2 linked regions of the Homo sapiens genome follow. The protein of the gene in region 1 interacts with the protein of each later gene in a pairwise test. Each region holds a gene or a part of one and is shown on either strand. Other genes may lie near its edges.

Region 1 (3,823 bases):
AAGAATATTGGTGTTTAAACTGGAGAATACATACTCCTGGGGGTGTACCTGTCGTAGGTAGTTTTAAAGACATAATTTCCAAGTCTTCAGCTTTTGTATATATTCTTTCTAAATCTGATCTGCTTGAAATTGGCTTGTGTGTTCATGCAGATTCTGCTTTCCCACCTTTCCTTTTACATTGATATTTTTAACATTTGTGAAAAGAAATATTACAACTCACTCATCTTTCCATGGTATATTGCTTTCGGGGTGCCTTATAAAGAGGCAGTTGGAAATATTTGATTTAGGGGAGCCTTCTTTAAGGATAATGGTTAAGCAAAAACATAAGCCTGCCAAGGGTTTGCCTGTCCCTATTTTAAACACATTTCTGTTAAGGCTGAAGTGTGGAGATAGAATTAGTATATGGTAGTCTGTGTGGGAATGTTCTGAATTCAGGCATATTGTAGAATGTGGTGGTAGGAGTGATTGTAAGGTGATCTGGGTGGGTTGTTTGATGGGAAGCTTAGCACCTTCAAGTTTTTACTCTTGGACTGGTTAGATTCTCCAGAGAAAAGCCTTCCCATTCTCCTCCCTAGAGGGCAGTATTTTAGGAATTTAGTGGCGGAAGACTAGGGTTCTCTGCCTTTAGCATTCAGTCTGTATGGTTCCCATGCCCACAGTCTAGACTGTTTCATTAATACCTTCTCCAGAGAATAAACTTACAGTCTTTTTCCTGGGGCAGTTGCCTAATAGCATGAAGTGAGGTAGGACACTTAGAGATATTCCTTTGTCAGTTTATACACAGCCCTAACCCGTTTCACCTTTAATTCCAAAGGTATCAGCTACTGCTTCATATGAATTTTTTTTTTTTAGAATACTGCAGGGTAAATTGGTTTGGTTCTCATATGCTCCCACTACTGGCTTGGGATTTTAATTTTTATGTGTTGCAATTTGTTAGTCTTTTTGGTTTTGGAATTTTGAGGAGTCATATTTAGGAAAACCTCCATTTCCCCATCTCCCCTCAATAGTGTGAAAAGAATCACCTTTATTTCTTAGTTCTTTTATAGTTTTAATTTGTACATTTTAAACTATTAGTTATTGGGGAATAAATTTTTGTTAATGGTGTGGAGGTAGGAATTAAACTCCTTTTTTTCTTCTAGAGGAATAGCTAGTTGTCTCAATACCATTTATTGAATAATCCATTTTTACCCTGCCCTGATTTTAAATGCCACCCTTGTCATACACTAACTTCCTCCATTCTTATTTTGTTGTGGTAAGATACACATAATATAAAAATCACAATTACCTGTTCTTTCATGATCAATGTCTAAAAAATACTAATTTGAGAAAGGATGATCTTTATAACCTAATATGCCAAAAAGAGAGTGAAGGGAAAGATGGAAGATTATCCTGTCTACTTCCTGCAGACTGCTTTCCTGTTGTTCTTTTGGTTCCCTCTGAGCACTATTTTGCCCAATCATTGTGTACTTACTGGACTGAGTTGAGCTATAGCTGCTGGGAGAACATATTCCCTTTTGTGACAACCCCTTTAGTATTTCCATGAGAGATTATTTCCTCTTCTAAGCGGATGTTAGAACCAGAGGCATTATAACATATGACTGGGTCAGAAACTTGTTTAAAGGGTTCCAAACATGTCAGAGCCTAGTGTAGTCCTTATAGTTTGATGGTTTTATGGTAATAATATCAGGCAGCCACTTATAAAGTCCTTTATTAATTAATTTTAACAGCTAATTAATCTTAACAGCTAAAGTAATTTTATTTACTTTCCCGTATTATGTGATGTCTCTGGTTATTTGTCTTAACTTTTTTTTACAGCTTGGCCTTCGAATTTGGTAAATAGTTTTTAGTCACATAGTGATTAATCATTTTATTTAAGTTTAATGAACTTTTATTATAAGGGAATGATTATCTTGTTTTAAGAATAACCTGGCTGCTTACTCAGTCAATCAGCATCATTTATTTCATTGCCAACTTTGTAGAGAGACCTCTACTTTATTCATTAAGAATATATAGAATAGGCTGGGCACAGTGACTCATGCCTGTAATCCCAGCACTTTGGGAGGCCGAGGTGGGCGGATCACCTGAGGTCGGGAGTTCAAGACCAGCCTGACCAACATGGAGAAATGCTGTCTCTACTAAAAAATACAAAATTAGCCGGGTGTGTTGGCGCATGCCTGTAATCCCAGCTACTAGGGAGGCTGAGGCAGGAGAATCGCTTGAACCCAGGAGGCGGAGGTTGTGGTGAGCCAATATCGTGCCATTGCACTCCAGCTTGGACAGCAAGAGCGAAACTCTGTCTCAAAAAAAAAAAAAAAAAAAGAATAGGAAAAAAATGTTTCTGTCTTTGAGATATAGTTTAATAAAGGACTTTGTAAGGGGCTGCCTGATATTATTACCATAAAATAACACAGAATACTTAAGCACACAATTCTTAAAAAATGAAGCACACAGTTTTCCTACAGGTGTCACCCTGTAGGAGTTTATATTTTTTAAAAGATGGCCCATACTCTTAAGAGTTTTAAACCATTGGAAGGCTGTTAGCTACTCTTTTTTTTTCTTTTTTTTTTTTTTTTGAGACCGAGTCTCACTCTGTTGCCCAGGCTGGAGTGCAATTATGCAATCTCAGCTCTCTGCAACCTCCACCTCCTGGGTTCAAGTGATTCTTCTGCCTCAGCCTCCCCAGTAGCTGGGATTTCAGGTGCCCACGACCACACCTGGCTAATTTTTCTATTTTTAGTAGAGACTGAGTTTCACCATGTTGGCCAGGCTGGTCTCGAACTCCTGACTTCAGGTGATCCGCCCTCCTTGGCCTCCCAAAGTGCTGGGATTACAGGCATGAGCCATGGTGCCCAGCCAGCTACTCTTTTAATTGGCAGCTACATAGCAGAGGAAACTGATGTTTGGGCTTGTGAATAAACATCATTGTTTTTGTTTTTTTCCTATGAAATGTTAGTTTTGAATGACCCATTACTTGTAGCCAAATAAAGTGATAAGAATATTCAAGTGTTGCTGATTTTATTTTCTGTTTCTTCTAGATGTCATCATTGCCAAGAAGAGCGAAAGTACAGGTCCAGGATGTGGTACTGAAAGATGAATTTTCTTCATTCTCTGAGTTGTAAGCATACTGGTTTAATATGTGGGTAGGGGAATGATGAATATTTTAATAAGGAGTAATGCATTCTGTCACTTTCTAACTCCTTAAGTGATGTGGGTAGAAAAAACTTTTTTTATTCATTCATGCAACAAGTATTTGTTGAACTCATGCTGTGTTCCAGGTTCTGTCTAGTGTTGCTAATAAAGTATCGAAAGGAGAGAGAAAGTAACCAACTAAATATGTAACATAATACTTACACTAGAATATAAGCTCCATGAGAGCATAGAGTTTTATATATTGCTTTAGAGCAGGATTTTTCAACCTCTGCACTACTGACATTGTGTGCAAGACAATTCTTTGTTGTGGGGGCTATCTTTTTTCTTGTAGGATTTTTAGCAGCATCCTTGGCCTCTACCCACTGGATGCCAATAGCTTCCTGCTAAGTTATAACAATTAAAAATGTCTCTAGACATTGCTAGATATCCCCAGTTGAGAATCTCTGCTTTAGAGTCATATTAGGTGCTCTGAAGATATTTGTTAAGTAAATGACTGGTAATATTTATAGTAATAAGTACTATAAAGAAAAATAAAACAGGGCAGGGGATAGAGAGCATAGTGAGTGGTTGCAGTCGGGGGGCATTTTGGATAGAGTAGTCAGAAAGTTATTGCGGAAGATGTGGCAAGAGATCTAGATGAGATTTGGGGGTGCAGCTTGCAAAGATCTTGGGG
Region 2 (3,823 bases), on another chromosome or scaffold:
TATATTCTTCTTTCATCTGCCTTTTTGTTCTTTCTGTGCCCTCAGCTGATTGGATGATGCCCACCCACATTGAGAGCAGGTATTCCTCACTCAGTCCACTGACTCAAATGCCTGTCTCTCCTGGAAACATCCCCACAGACATGCCCAGAAATAATGCTTTACCACATGTCTATGTATTCCTCAATCCAGTCAAATTGACACAAAGTTAACTATCATGGCTGGGCACAGTGACTCACCCCTGTAATCCCAGCACTTTGGGAGGCTGAGGTGGGTGGATCGCTGGAGCTCAAGAGCTTGAGACCAGCCTGGCAACATGGCGAAACACCGTCTCTACAAGAATTAGCCGGGTGTGCTCATGTCTTTAGTCCTAGCTACTTGGGGTGCTGAGGTAGAAGGATTGGCTTGAACCTGGTAGTTCGAGGCTGCAGTAAGCCGAGATTGCACCACTGCAATCCAGCCTGGGCGAGAGTGAGATGACCTTGTCTCAAAAAAAAAAAAAAAAAAAGAAAGAAAGAGAAAAAAGAAAAAATTCACCGTCATACAAACTAATTGACTAGGTTTCGTTCCCTGCTATATGTGTTCATAATATTTATCACTGTTTATTGAAATTATTTGTTAAAAAGTTGTCTTACTTGACAGACTCTGTAAGAGTCATTTTTTAGATAATGAATTCACTGTATCTGCAATTCAAATAACTGTAGAATTTTCCTTACTGGGGCTAGGCACAGTGGCTCACACCTGCCCACCGCACTTTGGGAGACTGAGGCAGGCGGATCACTTCAGGTCAGCAGTTTGAGACCAGCCTGGCCAACATGGTGAAACTCTATCTCTACTAAAAATACAAAAATTAGCCAGGTGTGGTGGGGTGTACTGGTAGTCGCAGCTACTTGGGAGGCTGAGGCAGGAGAATCACTTGAACTCCGGAGGTAGAGGTTGCAGTGAGCCGAGATCACACCACTGCAATCCAATCTGGGTGATACGCCGAGACTCCCTCTGTTTCCAGTTTTTAGTCTTCATTAAGATGATTTTGGTCCCTGAGCTTACCAAAAAAAAAAAAAAAAAGATTGTTTCATTGTTATGTTACTAAATACCTTAAATTGTGTTAGAATAATGGGATCATGATTGATGTTGAACAACTAACTTGACATGATAAAATTCTCTTTAACTACTGTGTTATCTTTTACGTACAGCGGAAAGAACACCCGGAAATGAAAGGCCACCAAGAAGAAAGGTAAAAAGTTCGTATACTCTACTATCTTAATGGTTTCTGGAGTTCTAAAATGAGGCAGATATTCATTATAAGGCAGAAGGGTGTTACCAGAGAAGACTTCACAAGGTCATGTTTACTGGGTGATTGCCATAGCCCTGGCAGAGGTTAGTCTTTGTTTTTTGTCAGTACCCAGAGAATAGATGATCTTTGAGAGGTTGACTTACTGAGGAACTCCCAGGAAACAGGTGTATAAACCAGAATATGGAACAATTTCTAATGCTATCTTAAGTCCTGCAGCCTGGGACTTATGCATTAATATAACTAGTTTGTTTATTTATTTATTATTATTTATTTGAGATAGAGTTTCCCACTTGTTGCCCAGCTGGAGTGCAGTGGTGCAGTCTTGGCTCACTGGTACCTCTGCCTCCCGGGTTCAAGTGGTTCTCCTGCCTCAGCCTCCCAAGTAGCTGGGACTACAGGCACACACCTCCATGCCTGGCTAATTTTTTGTGTTTTTAGTAGAGAGAGGTTTTCACCATGTTGGTCAGGCTGGTCTTGAATTCCTGACCTCAGGTGATCCACCCGCCTCAGTGCTGGGATTACAGGCGTGAGCTACTGCACCTGGCCTCCCAAAGTGCTGGGATTACAGGCATGAGCCACGGCACCTGGCCGTATTCTAACTAGTTGAGTCTCACCCTGTGGACATTTGGATTCCTTACTTCTATGGAGGAATCTAAACGATAAGGTCAGTTGGTGAGCAATAGTGTCAGAACAAAGACACATTAGTTGGAAGTTAAATGGTATCAAATTACAATCATTAAGAGCAGTCATTTCCTCAGGACTATTACCTGCTTCTAGGATATTGACTACACTGGTTTTGATATTGCGTAGGCGGGGCATGGCTGAATTTTGCCACTATAAACCCTACTTTTGTATGTGGGCCATCCCCTCGTATTTGATGCCATTAAAAATAAATGTTAATGTGATTGACTAAGCTATCAAGTACTAGTTTTTCTCTGGGCCTAGGAGACATATAATTTTTCATTATATATTTATTCAATCAGTTTAACCCTAATTATTTTTTCCTTTTCTTTTTACTTCCAAGTACTTAACGCCCCCTCATGTACTACTGACTTCCATCAAAGAAGTTCGAAAAATTATTTCAAAATGTATTGTTAATTCACCCTTTCATAAGCAAAATGTAAAAATTTTGCTAAAAGTCCAGTTAAAGAAATTTTTAGTGAAGAAAATGTGATATTAAAGGGGATCCTTGCCAGAGGGTTTGAAGAAACAGTGCAGAGATATTTAGGTAGATTTAGTGTTGTTTTTAAAATTTGGACAGCAGCAGCATTGTGGGAGGTCAGATTTTACATATGTTGCAATTTTGCTTCTATTTCTTGTAATTGTAGCTTTTTGCTTTAAAATTAAAATTCTTTAAGAATTAAAGAATGTGTTTATATTTAAAATACTAAACGATTTTATATTTCTTAGGCACTACCTCCTAGGACAGAGAAAATGGCTGTTGACCAGGACTGGCCTAGTGTTTACCCAGTTGCAGCACCATTTAAACCCTCTGCAGTACCTCTTCCTGTTCGAATGGGTTATCCAGTAAAAAAGGGCGTGCCCATGGCAAAGGAGGGAAATCTAGAACTTTTAAAGGTAAGACAAATTGCTGATTCATTGGCTCAGACTTACATAGAAATAAATGCTGATCTTCCCCCCTATTTCTGCTCTCTTATGCTTCACCGTTCAGTGTATAGCAGCTTAGTGTATTTTAATTTAAATGTTAAAAATAATATAATAGGTTTATTATTATACAACACCAGATAATAATAGGTGTTGTATTTTGATTATCAATGGTAAAGAATACTCAAAGAATCCTAGGCATTTAATAATGTAATTAGTTGGCTGGGCGCAGTGGCTCACGCCTGTAATCCTGGCACTTTGGGAGGCCGAGGTGGGCAGATCACTTGAGGTCAGGAGTTCAAGACCAATCTGGCCAACATGGTGAAACCCCATCTCTACTAAAAACACACAAAAAATTAGCCAGACGTGGTGGTGGGCACCTGTAATCCCAGCTACTTGGGAGGCTGAGAAAGGAGAATTGCTTGAACCCAGGAGGCGGAGGTTGCAGTGAGCCGAGATGGCGCCACTGCACTCCAGCCTGGGCGATAGAGTGAGACTCTGTCTCAGGAAAAAAAAAAAGAGTAATTAGTCAATCTTGTGGCTTCCCTTGTGACCTTTTTCTGTTGTATCTCTTCTTTTTGGAGATGGGGGTCAGTATGTTGCCCAAGCTGGTCTTGAACTCCTGGGCTCAAGAGACATGCCTGCCTCAGCATCCCAAAGTGCTGGGATTACAGGTGTGAGCCACCACACCCAGCCTATCATATCTTTTCTATATTGCATCTTTCCAGTGGAATTAAGAAAAATGAAATAACCTAATTTGAGATTAAGAATTGGGAGGTGAAACTTCCAGTTTAAAAAGAGGAATTTAAATTTTTTCTGTCCATAAAGGTAGAATATTATTTAGTATTATTATTATAGTCTACCAAATTTAACTTTATTGCTTGAAGCAAAATAGGTTAAGGCAAATGCTTTGTTTGATAGCATGTA

What was found.
Region 2: the proteins of SRBD1 (region 1) and MRPS35 interact in a two-hybrid assay, tested with the Homo sapiens proteins (one large-scale study listed by BioGRID).

What each region holds. Positions count from the first base shown.
Region 1 is NC_000002.12:45,604,654-45,608,476, reverse strand, and holds part of SRBD1 (S1 RNA-binding domain-containing protein 1), read left to right. Parts: intron 1-3,035; coding exon 3,036-3,115; intron 3,116-3,823.
Region 2 is NC_000012.12:27,713,590-27,717,412, forward strand, and holds part of MRPS35 (small ribosomal subunit protein mS35 isoform 1 precursor), read left to right. Parts: intron 1-1,190; coding exon 1,191-1,231; intron 1,232-2,701; coding exon 2,702-2,869; intron 2,870-3,823.